Linked DNA regions of Homo sapiens. The protein of the gene in region 4 interacts with the protein of the main gene of each other region in a biochemical or structural test. Each region holds a gene or a part of one and is shown on either strand. Other genes may lie near its edges.

Region 1 (3,730 bases), on a different chromosome or scaffold from region 4:
CCTCCCACACCTCCCACCCCTCCCACATCCGGCCCAGAAAGGGGGAGTGAAGACAGCAGGAGTAGGCTCACCCAGGCTGGAGCGTGTGTTGGAGCGCTCAATGATGATGTGTTTGCTGGGGTTGTTGAGAACTGAGCGCTTAGCCAGGGAAATATCTGCCGTCACACGAGTGATGGAGATCCTGGGGAATGGGGCAAGAGGGGAGTCAGGGGTCAGGGTGGGCTGGAATGCCCTGCCCACTCCCCAGTTCCAGGCCCGCCTTCTGTTCCTCAGTCCGAGTCCCAGGATTGTGATTCGAGGCATCCTGCCCATCCCCAGCAGCAGAGAGCAACGGCAGGTGCGAGGAGCAGCTCCCAGGATCTTACCTGCCATCAAACCGATGCTTCAAGAAGTCAAATAAAGCTTTCTGCATCATGTCTGTAACCTGGGGGTGGGGGTTTGTGGGGAGGGAGGGAGGAGAAGGCAGGCATTTAAAGCCGCTCAGACTCTGAGTCGCTGGGTATTTGTACCCTCACGTTCCACTTTCTTCTGGACAGGCCTTTACGGCGGGCGGGGGTCTGAGTCTGAGGGGCCTCCACTGGGGTCTCTGGTTCCAAGGTCCCTGTAAGTGGCATCTCTGGGAGGGCTCTTCTGAGGGTTTCTTTGGGGGACGGGGCTCCTCTGAGTGGGTCTTTCTGTGGATTGGGCCCCCTGGGGGTTGTCTCTGAAAGTCTGTAGCCCTCCTGGGAGGATGCCTTGGGATCGGGCCCTTCTAGGGGATCTCTCTGGGGTCTGAAGATCTTTCTAAGGCCCCTCTGCATCCACTCCCCTCTAGGAAGTCCTACCTCGTAGCCCTTGAGCGACGGTCCCACCAGGATGATGGGCCTCATGGAAGGCACCACGTCATAGGGGGGCACATGCTCTGTCTGGGGGGGGAAGCAGGGAGGGGAAACCCCAGAGTGGAGATGACATTAGATCCTCTCCCCCAGACTCCAGGCTCCCCCATGCAGCCTTCCCCCACCCTGGTCCCAGAGCCCAGATGTAGGGATCAGGGTGGGGGTGGGGAGGGATGGCCAGGGAGAACCAGGAAGGGTGGGGGAAATGGGGGACAGATGTGGGAATGGGTGTTAGAAGGTCCCCCTAGCTCATCCCAGGGAGTGGGGAGGAGGACACAGAAAGCTGTGATACTCACCGACTTCTGCTTCTGTTTGGCTGGGTCCAGAGATTGCCAAGAGAGGGAAGGGGGAGGAGAGAGGGAAGGGGACCCAGGCAGGGGCAGAGGGCAAGGCAGGAGCCAGGACAAGAGAGGGAGGGAGAGCCGGGCAGACGAGGAGAGATAACAGGGCATGCGTGTTAGTGACAGACAGAGCCAGAGACGGGGAACGGGACCCCACGCCAAGGGGGAGCCAGAGGTGGCCCTGGATCAGGGCTGGGAGCAGGACTGACAGTCAGTCCAGTGGATGTGGGAATATTCAGACATATCCTACCCTCTTCTGGGTCTTGGAAAAGAGCTGGAGAGGGTGACAGCCCCTATCTTGTTGCCCATCTCCTGCCCCCAGTGCATGCCAACATGCCCATTTTAGGGGTTCCCTTAACTGTCTTGCTTTGCAGCCAGCAGCCCCCCCCCACTATGTGCCCACCCAGAGAGTCAAAAAAGGGCAAAGAAGGAATGCCATCCCATGTCCTGCTTCACATGCCAAGGTAGACACCAACACCAGAGCAGGCCCCTGGGAGTGAGGGGAGAGGTCAGGGTTCATGACCACCAAACCCTGCTGCCCCAGGTGTGGGGGCAACCTTCCAAGGGCAAGATCTCCTTCCTGGAGATCGGGCCAGGGTGGAGTTGTGTGTGGAGGGGGATGTGCCCATGCTACCCTTCCCTCCACCTCAGCAGGAAGCCCTGATGCCCACAGAACAGGTTGGTACCACATCTGAATCCATTACAGCCCCCTTCCCTCCACCAAAGTGCTGGCCCTGACTCCCCCACCTCTTGCAAGAACACAGCGAGAATTACCTTCTTAAAGAAGGGGATGCGTTTGCCATGGGGTGGCGGGGTGGTGACACTGCTAACACTAGTCTTGGCAGAGCCACTCTGCTCACCAAGCTCAGCCTCTTCCTCCTCTAACTCTAGGGGGTCTAGTTCAAAGGCTAAGTTAGTCATTTCATTACCTGGACCGGAGAGTCAGGAGAGAGGGAGGAGGGAGGCGAGGTGGGGAGAAGGAGTGAGATGAACGTGGAGACACAAGTACAGAACGCAGGGATGGGGATGGGGAAAAAAGAAAGAAGAAGAGGTGAATGGAACAGGGCTGGGAGAAATGAATGGGGGCAGGGCAGGGGAATCAGGCAGAGAGATGGAGCTACCAAAGAAAAGGGAGAGGAGAGACATGACAGGCCCAGCTTGAGGGGTAGCCTACTCTTCATGGAGGGGGAACCACTGCATGTGCTTGGGGGACTCAGGATTGGGGTGTTTCCTACTGCAGGGAAAGGAGGATTCAGGGAGTGGGGAGACCACCCCACCCAGGAGCTTCTTCCCAAACCCCTGCATGGCGATGGCTCTTACCACTGGCAGGGGGTGTGGGGCGGCGGGTGCCAGTCACCACATCTCCCAGACTGGAACTGGAGTTATCGCCTGATTTGCTGTGTGGGCAGAGGCAAACCGAGCTTGTGAGCAAAGAGGTGGGCGTGGGGGGCTCTCATCCTCTCACATGCGGCACCCCCGGAGGTGCTCCAGCCCCACTGGTGATGCCACAGGCAGCTCTGTGCCCTCAGGGCCAGGGACAACCATTGAGGCCTAGTCCAGGCTGTATGGCCTCTCCTGGGGTTGGCAGCATCCCCTTCCCCTGCCCCACCCAGACACCTGGAGCCGAGGCGGTTCTGGCGCAGCTTCTGTTCCTGCAGCAGGCGAAGGCTGTCCAGTTTGACGGGGCTGGGAATGAAGCCAACCTCACAGCCCTCCTTCACCAGCCGCCCGATCCACCAGTCATTATTGTATTTCTGCAAAGAATATGGCAGGTGGGTGGAAAGAGCAAGAGGGAAACTGCAGGGGCAAGCTAGCAGTCACTCTCTAGGGGAAACGCCCAGACTCACCTCCCAGCCCAGGGGTGGCACCCTCAAAAATCCCCAGCCCTGGCTCCAGCCTCTGAGTGGAGCTGCCAATTCTCAGGACAACTCCAGGACCAGCATGCTTTCTGGCCATGGACCACCCTGCCACCGGCCCAATGCAATTCTGAGAGTCCTTCTCCCCATGTGCCCACCCTACTCTACAAAGGCCGCTGGAGTAAATGCGGATACCTACATGTCCCTGGCACACCGCCATGCCAGTTCAGGCCCCCTAACAAACCCTCCCAACAACCTTCTGACCTAAGCATTACCACCTCATTTTTCCAGTAGAAAATTAAGAGGCTCAGAGAGGTGGAGAGATTTGTCTAAGGTCACACAGCAGATTCAGCCTGGCTCTGCTTGGCTCAGAAGCCTTTTGTCCACTAGCACTCTGGCTGCCTGTCTCCTGGCACCCACTTCCCTGCCCTCCCTCCAGATACCCACCTCCTTGATGTGCAGGAAGTCTTTGGGCTCGAAGGTGATGGCCACTCCCTGCACAGGCACCTCATCCCCTGGAGACGGATTGTAGCCAACATTTGTCCGCACAGCAAATGCCACTGGCTTGGTCTAGAGGAGGCACACAGGGGAGGATGGCAACTAGAGGGCAAACCACAATGTAATGTACAACTTCCTGACAGTAGTGGTGGTTACTTGG
Region 2 (3,730 bases), on a different chromosome or scaffold from region 4:
CCTGAGTGCACCACTGCACTCCAGCCTAGGCAATGAAGCAAGACTCCATCTCAAAAAACCAACAAAAATGCACATTTCCATATGCAAATCTATTTTTTGAAATCCTCCAATTTCAAAAGATAATCCAAAGCCATCATGATCATTATCAATATATCTATATAGTGCACACTTACCACTGCAATTTTCCCCAGTCAAGAATGCATACTAAACCAGGCACCGTGGCTCAGGCCTGTAATCCCAGCACTTTGGGAGGCCAAGGTGGGCCAATCACCTGAAGTCAGGAGTTTGAGGCTAGGCTGGCCAACATGGTGAAATCCCATCTCTACTAAAAATACAAAAATTAGGCCGGCGCAGTGACTCACACCTGTAATCCCAACACTTTGGGAGGCCAAGGCAGGTGGATCACCTGAGATCAGGAGTTCAAGATCAGCCTGGCTAACATGGTGAAACACTGTCTCTACTAAAAATAAAAAAAAATTAGTCTGGCATGGTGGCACATGCCTGTAATCCCAGCTACTTGGGAGGCTGAGGCTGAACAATCACTTGAACCCGGGAGGCAGAGGTTGCAGTGAACTGAGATTGGGTCACTGCACTCCAGCCTGAGTAACAGAGCGAGACTCTGCTTCAAAAATAAAATAAAATAAAAATATAAAAATTAGCCAGGCATGGCCGGGCGCGGTGGCTCACGCCTGTAATCCCAGCACTTTGGGAGGCCAAGGCGAGTGGATCACAAGGTCAGGAGATCAAAATCATCCTGGCTAACACGGTGAAACACCGTCTCCACTAAAAAAAAAAAAAAAAAAACAACTAGCTGGGCATGGTGGCGGGCACCTGTAGTCCCAGCTACTCCAGAGGCTGAGGCAGGACAATGGCGTGAACCCGGGAGGCAGAGCTTGCAGTGAGTCAAGATCGCGCCACTGCACTCCAGCCTGGGCGATAGAGCAAGACTCCATCTAAAAAAAAAAAAAAAAAATTAGCCAGGCATGGTGGTACGCACCTGTAATCTCAGCTTATCGGGAGGCTGAAGTGGGAAAATCGCTTGAACCTGGGAGGTGGAGGTTGCAGTGAGCCGAGATCACGCCACTGCACTCCAGCCTGGGCGACAAGAGCAAAACTCCACCTCAAAAAAAAAAAAAAGAAGATAAAAAGTAGCAAATTATAGAAAGTCCCTTATGCAAAAGAAAGCTTATTTCACTTTTATTCTTTTTTATGTTTGGTGCTTGAATAAATTCTCAACTAAAAGGAAAATTACTATACAGAAGTAGTCACTTGCTAAACATTACAGGTTGCAAAGGTTTACTCAATGACAAACCAAAAGGAAACTTATTTGCCTAACTATATTTGACTGTCATCTAGGTAAAGGGTCATGGAGCTTTCATGAGCAGGTTGGTTCAATTGTGCAACAAGGAAAATAAGCTTCCAAGCATAATGAGACTTATTATTACATATAAATTGTTCTTTCTGACAGAGGAAAGGACTGCCTAGCATTCTGCATAAAATCACAATGGCTTCAGCAGACAATGGCCCTATTTGAATCAGGGTGGAATCTGCAAGGGTAGAAAATTCATGCCTCAGTTAATTGTAATCTATAGAAGGCATGGATTTCAAAACAGCAAAGATAGGAGAGAATCAGACAAGATCTAGTTAGATCCTAAAGCTCATCTCTGAAGGGAGCTAATATAGTGACAATGTAAGCAGCATTATCTGCTCACTTCATGCCAAGGGGTATTTCCAACACCTATTAGTGATTAATGAGACATGCTATGTCATTACAGACTACAGGGTAGCCTCAGTTGAGGTTAAACACAAAATGGAACTTCAGACACCATTTCACTAAAAGCTCACATCCAAAGGCAGATTTAATTTCACTGATCCAGCCTTTCAAGACTAACCATAAGAGAAGACTGCCCAGGTGGAATACCAAAGAAGCTTCTGATTCAGATCACCGTTTCAAACAAAAGTAAAACAAAATTGTTCAGGAAGCAGTTCAATTCCAAACAGGAAGCTGTACTAAATACTCCCAACAGTATTAGCCACAAGAGGGATGTTAGAAAGGGCTAGGAAGCAAAGAGGACAACCAGCACCTATCCTATAAAGTTAATTGGAAGCTTAGTTAACTCATTTCCACTAAAGCAGAATGTTAGAATTCAGAAGAAATGAATTTTTTTTTTTAGCAACAACCTGGACTACAGTTCTTTTTTTTTTTTTCCCCCCCTGGATACAGAGTCTTGCTCTGTTGCCCAGGCTGAAGTGCAGCGGCACGATGTCAGGTCACTGCAAACTCCACCTCCCGGGTTCAAGCCATTCTCCTGCCTCAGCCCCCGGGGTAGCTGGGATTACAGGCACGTACCACCACACCCAGCTAATTTTTGTATTTTTAGTAGAGATGGGGTTTCACCATGTTGGCCAGGCTGGTCTCGAACTCCTGACCTCAGGTGATGCGCCTGCCTTGGCCTCCCAAAGTGACGGAATTACAGGCGTGGGCCACCATGCCAGCAATTTTTAACAAACCTGATGACACACGATAGCAGTAATTTAGGAGCTGGCCTCCTTTAACACAAAGGTTAATAAGACAGCCCCTCCCCACACACAAACCTGTGGATCAGCTTTAAGTTTTAGCTTAATTTGACATAACAAATAAAAGTAAACTGGAAAGCTATTTCAAGGGTCCATCTAAAAGACTATTACTTAACCAGACTTTCTTTCAAATTGATCTAGGGTTCTAATGAGCAAAATTCATCCTAGCTGCTGCGGTGGGGAGAGTCAGGGGAGGGCCACCAGTGACAAGCAGAATCAATTATCCTAAACAAAAAGCACCTAAGCATAATTTAGAGACAAAGCATGGTTCAGTGGAAAGAACACTGACTTTGGAGCCAGACCAGCCTGTGCTCTAGAACTAATACTTGGTGCCTCAGGACTCTGAGCCAGTTATCTGGCCCCTCGGAAGCGCATCAGCATCCTCAGCAATTATTATGAGCTTTACGCTGCAAAGATGTTTATGAGTATTAGAAATACAACATAAAGGGTCTAAGAAACCCTTTTCTTTGGTTCAAGGAAAGAGCTAAATGAACTGCAACTTTTATATTATTAGGTAAATTCAACCTGACCTTTTAATTCCTTTTCTGCATAAAATAACTTTCACCCTGTAATTCTAACCTGGCACATGGTAAGAGCTCAATAGCAGTAAATATTATTATCCAGCAAATTCACTAAACCTGTCCTTACACATAAACATCTATAAAACTTACAGCAACACTCCACTTGTAAAAAATTTTAAATAGGATCAGAGAATATGCTGACTAAAACCAACCCACTCACTGAGCAACCAGTTCTGTAGCTACATCAAGTATAGGGGCAAGGCCGGGAACAGTGGCTCAAGCCTGTAATCCTATCACTTTGCGAGGCTAAGGCAGGCGGATTGCCTGAGCTCAGGAGTTCGAGACCAGCCTAGGCAACATGGCAAAACCCCATCTCTGCTAAAAATACAAAAAATTAGCCGGGCGTGGTGGTGCTCAATTGTAGTCTCAGCTACTCGGGAGGCTAAGGCAGGAGAATTGCTTGAACCCAGGAGGTGGAGGTTGCAGTGAGCCGAGATGATACCTCTGCATTCCAGCCTGGGCAACAGAGCAAGACTATCTCAACAAAAAAAAAAAAAAAAAAAAAAAAAAAAAAAGCAGAGGCAATCTAATGAAGGTTTAACCCTCAGCAATCATGTTCATTCAGGGGAAAA
Region 3 (3,730 bases), on a different chromosome or scaffold from region 4:
GTACAGGCTGTCCACTTTAAAACAAGTGAACTGGCTTGGGCTGGTAGAGAAGAACATGTTAAGCCCATTAAGCCCCACAGGTTAAGTACACAGGCACATCAGCGGAGGCGTTGGGGCTTTTATGGTAAGAAGCAGGAGCATGCTTGGAGAGTCTTGTACCTGTGGTTCTCAAAAGTACTTTTCCAATCTCTACCCCAGATTTCCAAATACTACCTTTTACCAATAGTTCATTAAACTTTTTACTTTGTGTTCCATTTGGGTAGTGAATGATTAAGCCCCCCAATGTATACTGATAAGCAGTATCCATCATTATCTACATTCTGAGATTAAGGCACCAGGCTAAATCCTTTAGAAAAATTAAACAGAGATAGAAACAAAAATGAAAGCAGTCTGAGTCTCTCAACAAAGGCATGGATGCTCCACTCTAGTTCTATGAGTGGCATGCAGCAAAGGCCACACATTTCTACAGGAGAAAATCAGTTATACATAATTAGAAGCAGGCTGTTAAGAGCAATGAGAAAACAGTACCTGCAGGGATGGGGGCGGGGGTGCTGGAGTACATACCTAAAATGATAAAGTCACAGTTCAGAAGTCTTTGCAATTATTTCATGTAATTCAAGGATTCTAGTTTGGGAAAACCCCAAACACCTGAAGTTTAAGGAAATAAACTCCTGGACTGAGACTGGCCCAGTGTCTGACAAATACCCACATTCTATGAGTGCATTATGTATTACGGGGGATGAATGGGGAATGGTAAGGTAGAGGACATCTCAACTCCATCAAAAGCTCTAAGATCTCTGTCTACACACCCCACCCCTGTAGTTAACAAAATGTTTTGGGGTTCAGTAGCTGTAAGCTCTATATAAAATAACATTTTTGTCAGAAAAAAATTTTCTTATTGAAAAGACATTCCAATAGAAACTTCTTTGTTTTGGCTCTTTAACATTTCAAAATTAGGCTCTCATTTGCACTATCATGTTGCATCATCCAGAGAGTTATAAATAGGGTGGCCACATAAACCAGGGTAACTTTCAGAGCTACGGAGGCACTCCTTGGACTGCATGCTAGGATAACAGGTATAAACCAGAATTGCGCCAGGCAAACCAGGATATATGGTCACTCTAGGTACAAAAAAACCCCACTAATTACTATTTACTAAATGCTAACCCTCTCAACCATGTATATAGATAGCACTATCATTGTTCCCCATTTTACAGATGAGAAAAGGACGTCACTTGTTGAATGTCCCACAACTATTAGATGGTAGAGACTAAAGGTAAAACTGACTCCAAAAATCAGTGCTTACCTTATGTTGTACTACTACTCACAGTTTTAGGAACAGAAACGGGAAGTTAAAGGCGTCTTATGTAACAGCCAAGCAACAGTGGGACAAAAGAACTACTTGAGTGAGTCAAAGGAAAATATGGAATCAGAAAAGGAAAGGCAACTGCAATTCTGTGTGAATTTTTATTAACTGCTTACTACACAATAGGCACTGATAGTATTGACAATAATCAAAAGGAAAATTTGTGGTAAGAATTTGTCTTCAACTGGGGATTCTCAGATTTCAGGCTAGAAAAAATTCTGGTCTATGCACGTAGGTTGCCCTTCACATGACAGGAATGCTTCTGACGCACCTCATTAGCATGTGTTCTGAATTACTATTCAGTTCTAAATTATAATAAAATGTATCCAGTATAATCAGGGTTGACATTCTTTATAAAAATGCAATACTCACATTCCCAAACTTGAGAAACAGGTACGTATAAATGATTCTCCTTTATTCGCCAGTTCCTTTAAAACAACCCCAAGAGGGCATTAAAGTGCTTATTTACAGATCATTAACTACTCGGAGTGGCAGAGTACACTTGCTAGGAGTCACAGGCAACTAAAGACCTGCATGATTCCATGTATCAAAATATCCTTTATAGACAACTTTCCAAGAATACTATATTGGGGTGGGCGTGGTGGCTCTTGCCTGTAATCCCAGCACTTCGGGAGGCTGAGGTGGGAAGATCGCTTGAGCCCAGGAGTTCAAGACAAGCCTGGGCAACACAGGGATTTCCCCATCTCTATAAAAAATAAAAATAAATTTTAAAAAAGAATATTATATTGGGTAAAACACTCTGGATCCAAATGACACACTCCTGATAAAAGAAAAGGTATACATTTGTAACCTTGGCAGCAAAAGATCTAGACAACTACTGATCTAGAAATCTTCTAACAGATTTCTGTTACAAGCTAAATGTCTAAAGAAACTTGGAACAAAGTAATTTGGAAACTAGAGTGTAACTAACTAAACCAAACAAGAAAAAGAGATGTAATCAATACCTGCGGAGAAATCTTAAAAAGAGGATCTTCTTACACCCCAACTCCTGTTTTAAAGACTGCTACTACAACAGCAGCCACTCTAAGGAGAATCAAGAGATACTAATGATGTGAAGATAGGAAATGCCAACCTATGAAATCTCCTTTCAGTGATTCTGACAAGTCCTGGCGTAAATTCTATACAACTGCACCAAAAATTAACCGTAAGATAACTCTGATGACAAAAGGAGAAACCTGGATTTTACCTATCGGGTTAACACCCAAGCTGTACCCATTGGGGCTCTACTTGGTGTGCTTCCTAAGTCTCAGCTGACCCTTTTGATGAATTAGTGGCACATAGCTTCATTCAAATAAAGAATATCCTATAAACAAAAGTAGTTTCTTCTGTGCTCTTCTCCTTCCCCACATTTTGCTGATGGGTCTGACTCCACAGATCCTAGGTCAAAATGTTTAATGGATCACTCTGGAGAGTGCCTTTAATGTTCAGAAGTTCAGAGAACAGCAAATGTTCTGAAAGGCCTTCCGGAGAAACATGCTTATTGTAAGAGCTCTCCAACAAGTTGGAGATTTGGGTTTACACTATGAAAAAAGAATCAACTTGACACAGTGTCAATTTCCAAAGGTCCAAGGACAGTTACCACTCCTGTTACACAAAGTAGCAGCAAAAGAGGGATAAATAACCAGTGGTTATGGGGAACTAGATTACTTACTTGGTTTGACCGATAACTGCCAACATTAAACAAGGATCTTCTTCAGTTGTGGTACACTTAACTCTTAAAACTCAAGGATTCCTTTTCTTACCTCAAATTTTCCTAGCCATACCATCTGAAATCACCAGTGACAGTCGTGAACAAGCCTTACAATGTGAATTACACTACAGCTATTAAGACATTCCCGTGAAAAATTATTTTAGAACTCTGTGTCAGGAAAAGTCGTCCCCTTGAGGAATTGACATGTATTATTTCCCATGCCTGCTAAGGAGACTGTAACTATGATTCTTTTCATCCTCTGGCTGCTAAAAGTTTCAAGTTGCATGTGATCAACCTCATCAACTATCTTAGCCCTCGAGGTTAACAATATTTTTTTCATTCTTTCTATAGTTTTTACTTCCTTTTATATCACATATATGTTCTGTGTTATAAGCCACTTCAAATGCCCATTGAAGAAAGAATATAAATATACGAATAGACTTTTAAAAAATTACACTGCTATCTTAACTCCCCAACATGCCCCTATCTCCACCTGTTCCAAAAAAAATAGGCACTTATTTGGCAGATGAGGAGATGCAGGTACAAAAGCTAATTAATTTGCTCAAGGTCATATCCCTTTAGTTGACTTCTCGACACCCAGACATCTCAAATCTTCAATCAAACCAACAAGTCCTATTTTGTTCATAGCAGTG
Region 4 (3,730 bases):
CGTGCCCGGCCTACTCAGTATTTTTCATAAGAAATTACTTCCCTTAAAGTTTCTGTGCTAACTGACAAAAATCATAGACTCTTTACTTAGTGATACAACGCATTTTCTAAAAGTTTCCTTTGATTTCGCTTTAATTTGCCTGAAAAGAGGACAAGAAGCTTAAAGCAATATTCTGAAAAATCACACCACACAAAATTAGACAAAATTCAGATGTGTGTTCAGAAGTGTACAATAAAAGAGGTAATTTTATTATAGTTTGCCTTAGAAAAGACACCAAGGCCATCTACACAACAAATCTAGTTCCTTTCTTTGGGATTGGGATGATTTATTCTCAAATAGGTTTTTAAAAGGATACGTGTTCCATTAACTCCTGATATTTTAAAGTCATCTAGTAGTTGAACAACCATTTCTCTATTTGGATCATTAGGGTCTGAATTGCGAACCTGTAGTGGGGAAGAGACAGTGTTTAGCACAAGGTAAAGCATGGAAATAAACCAGATGGTAGGGGAAGAATACTTACAGCAAATTAACTACAAGAAAGAGCTCACATAAATCTATTTTTAAAATATACTAAAATTTCAATAGCTTTAATGGAGAAAAATCTTAAATAGTCAATTCATAAGAGGAAATACAACCAACAGGAACTATTTTTCTAATTAAACTATTTTGCTCCCTGATATCAATCAAAGTGTGGCCTCCAAATTAACTGATGATTACCAGGCTATGAGGAACTAAGAAGATTTTGCAGGATGCAAATCAACTACAGCACTAACCACACTGTTTTTTTCAGCGGACATTTTTTTTTTCATGGAAAAACTTTCTCAATGAAGAAAACAGTATGTTGATTTACTTTTGGGTAGGTACAAGGCTCCTTATCTTGTCACAAACGGACATTCTGAAAAGTACTGTCTTAAGCCAGATGCAGTGGCTTGTGCCTGTAACCCCAGCTACTCTGGAGGCTAAGGCAGATCACTTGAGGCCAGGAGTTGAAAATAAAAAAGAAAACTACTGCCATAGAAATCTCCTGGTGCAACATTCTCACTTTATGAATAAAAAATCTGAGACTCAGAAAGAAAAAAATGGTAACATGGAGGACATACCGGGGTAAAGGCGACCTAAACCCAGGTTTTCTAATTCTGAATTTAAGTTCCTTCTACCACACTGGCATATTCCTAATTTAAAACAGAACTAAAAATACATTTTTGATAGAATTTATCTCAGTTTCCAGGTATAAATGGAATCAGTAAATACAGTATTTTTATATTATGTATTCTATAACATATTTGAAAAACAACAAAAAAGATGCTATACATTTATTTACACAACTTTCCTTTTAACCATAGTAGGAAAAAAAAACATTATGACAGTAGCTACCTGGCCTGTAAAACATGCTCAGTGAATATTTTTATTCATTTGAAAGGTTTTTTTTTGGTTCATGCGTGTAAGAAGAATTCTCATCATAGCATTTGCCACCAGTTCCCTACTACATGCATGGTATGTGTAAATATTGTTGTCTTCCTTTACCTCTTTAAGGTTACTAGAACTTTATAGAGAAAATTATCCATGCTAAAGAGCCTCCACTTGGTGTGTTTTTATTCAATGAAACTTGATTTATTTATAATTCTTCACATTCATACATATAATCTAATACTCACTGACTTCAGCAACCGGATTTCATCTAGTGCTGTTTCAGTGTAATGTTCAGCACTTTTAACTACTTTCATTGCCACAAATTTCTTCCCCCTAAGAAACAAACACAGGCAATTAAGACTACATAGCCTACCCTTACTTTAGGAAGCTAAGATTTAGCTATAAGATGGTTAAAAAGGACAAATATTGATTTCACGTTTCCCTGTAGCCCAAACAAGCTACTTCTATGGGAACATTTATACTTGTTAATGACACTAACTGGCCAGATTTCATTTATAGGAAGAATAAAAAATCTGTTCTCAGATAATCTCAGTTGTTGAACATTTTCTCTGAGTTAAAATCCTTCTTTTGAATATCTCCCTGAGTTACAAGCAAAACTGCAAAATGAGGATAAATAAGGGGAAAGATATTACCAAATTCCAAGTGTTCTGTGTATATATCTGTATATAGGCAAAAACTAAAAGGTTAAAAGCTGTAATATTTTCCCATAGGCAGCCAGAAGAAATACTTCGGTGAAAAGAAAATGATAAAAATCACAAAAAAATCAAACGACAAAAGCTTTACCAGCATTAATTTAATCACTCCTGTCTCTATAGTAGAAAGGGAGATATATAATACTGATTCTTCACGAAAGAAAAGTGGTTTCTCCAAGAATACAGAGACTATTGCCAACAACAAAATTCTGATAAATGAATCAGGCTAGAGATAGATTGAAGCCTGGATCAGCAGTGGAAACTCAGACAAACACATTTAGACATCATCTAACTAATTCTTTTACAGAACCACTAAAACTTACTGAATATCCCATGATAACCATACTGTTGAAAAGTGTCCCCAGCCTAACTTTCGGATCACATGGTATCTCCCATTGAATAGATCTCCAATTTTCACAAGATGATAACCTCCTGGAAGAAACAGGGGAAATACAATCAGAAAAACCAGGATGAGAAACAATGGTAAGAAAAGGCATTTTTAACATCACATTTTTCAACATCTATATACCTTTTATCAATAAAAAGTTTCTTTTATACAATCAATTCAACAGAAGAAAATCTTAATAGTCAAATCAGCCACATAGTATTACTGAATTCATGTTATTAAAAAAAGTGAGTAAGATTAATGATTTAGATTGAGCCTACAACAGTCTCATCCAAAAACAATAAAAAGGTTGTATATCATGATATTCTTGTCTCTCAATAATTCAATAGGTTTATCTAAACATATATATCTATTTACAATTACAGTCTCAGGTGTTTTTTAGGAGACAGAATAATTCTGTTTATTTAGCAAAAAAAAAAAAGCAAGTAAGCAAACGGGATTTTCTCTAAATAAAAACAAAACAAAACAGCCCAGGCACGGTGGCTCATGCCTGTAATCCCAGCACTTTGGGAGGCCAAGGAGGGCGGATCATTTGAGGTCAGGAGTTCGAGACCAGCCTGGCCAACATAGTGAAACCTGTCTCTATTAAAAATACAAAAATTAAGGCTGGGCATGGTGGCTCACGCGTGTAATCCCAGCACTTTGGGAGGCCGAGGTGGGTGGATCACCTGAGGTCAGGAGTTTGAGAACCAGACTGGCCAACATGGTAAAACCCAGTCTCTACTAAAAATACAAAAATTGGCCAGTGTCATGGTGCATGCCTGTAGTCCCAGCTACTCGGGAGGCTGAGGCAGGAGAATCGCTTGAACCCAGGAGGTGGAGGTTGCAGTGAGCTGAGATTGTGCCACTGCACTCCAGCCTGGATGACAGAGCCAGACTCTGTCTCAAAAAACAAACAAACAAACAAAAAACAAAAAACGGCAAGGCGCGGTGGCTCACCCCTGTAATCCCAGCACTTTGGGAGGCTGAGGCAGACGGATCACAAGGTCAGGAGATCGAGACCATCCTGGCTAACACGGTGAAACCCTGTGTCTACTAAAAAAAAAAAAAAATACAAAAAATTAGCCGGGTATGGTGGCGGGCGCCTGTAGTCCCAGCTACTCGGGAGGCTGAGGCAGGAGAATGGCATGAACCCGGGAGGCAGAGCTTGCAGTGAGCCGAGATCGCGCCAACTGCACTCCAGCCTGGGCGACAGAGCGAG

The links. Proteins that work in one complex are often made in the same cells at the same time.
Region 1: of the proteins of SRPK1 (region 4) and CACNB1, one has a biochemical effect on the other in vitro, tested with the Homo sapiens proteins (one large-scale study listed by BioGRID).
Region 2: of the proteins of SRPK1 (region 4) and STAU1, one has a biochemical effect on the other in vitro, tested with the Homo sapiens proteins (one large-scale study listed by BioGRID and IntAct).
Region 3: of the proteins of SRPK1 (region 4) and AHCYL1, one has a biochemical effect on the other in vitro, tested with the Homo sapiens proteins (one large-scale study listed by BioGRID and IntAct).

Annotation. Positions count from the first base shown.
Region 1 is NC_000017.11:39,183,960-39,187,689, forward strand, and holds part of CACNB1 (voltage-dependent L-type calcium channel subunit beta-1), read right to left. Parts: intron 3,643-3,730; coding exon 3,520-3,642; intron 2,971-3,519; coding exon 2,834-2,970; intron 2,614-2,833; coding exon 2,537-2,613; intron 2,146-2,536; coding exon of another isoform or gene 1,991-2,145; intron 1,192-1,990; coding exon 1,172-1,191; intron 906-1,171; coding exon 825-905; intron 425-824; coding exon 366-424; exon of another isoform or gene 274-365; intron 182-273; coding exon 72-181; intron 1-71. UniProt on the Homo sapiens protein: Regulatory subunit of L-type calcium channels. Regulates the activity of L-type calcium channels that contain CACNA1A as pore-forming subunit.
Region 2 is NC_000020.11:49,178,125-49,181,854, forward strand, and holds part of STAU1 (double-stranded RNA-binding protein Staufen homolog 1), read right to left. Parts: intron 1,121-3,730; exon of another isoform or gene 174-1,120; intron 1-173. UniProt on the Homo sapiens protein: Binds double-stranded RNA (regardless of the sequence) and tubulin.
Region 3 is NC_000001.11:109,987,745-109,991,474, reverse strand, and holds part of AHCYL1 (S-adenosylhomocysteine hydrolase-like protein 1), read right to left. Parts: intron 1-3,730. UniProt on the Homo sapiens protein: Multifaceted cellular regulator which coordinates several essential cellular functions including regulation of epithelial HCO3(-) and fluid secretion, mRNA processing and DNA replication.
Region 4 is NC_000006.12:35,886,369-35,890,098, forward strand, and holds part of SRPK1 (SRSF protein kinase 1), read right to left. Parts: intron 2,556-3,730; coding exon 2,447-2,555; intron 1,744-2,446; coding exon 1,656-1,743; intron 444-1,655; coding exon 356-443; intron 1-355. UniProt on the Homo sapiens protein: Serine/arginine-rich protein-specific kinase which specifically phosphorylates its substrates at serine residues located in regions rich in arginine/serine dipeptides, known as RS domains and is involved in the phosphorylation of SR splicing factors and the regulation of splicing.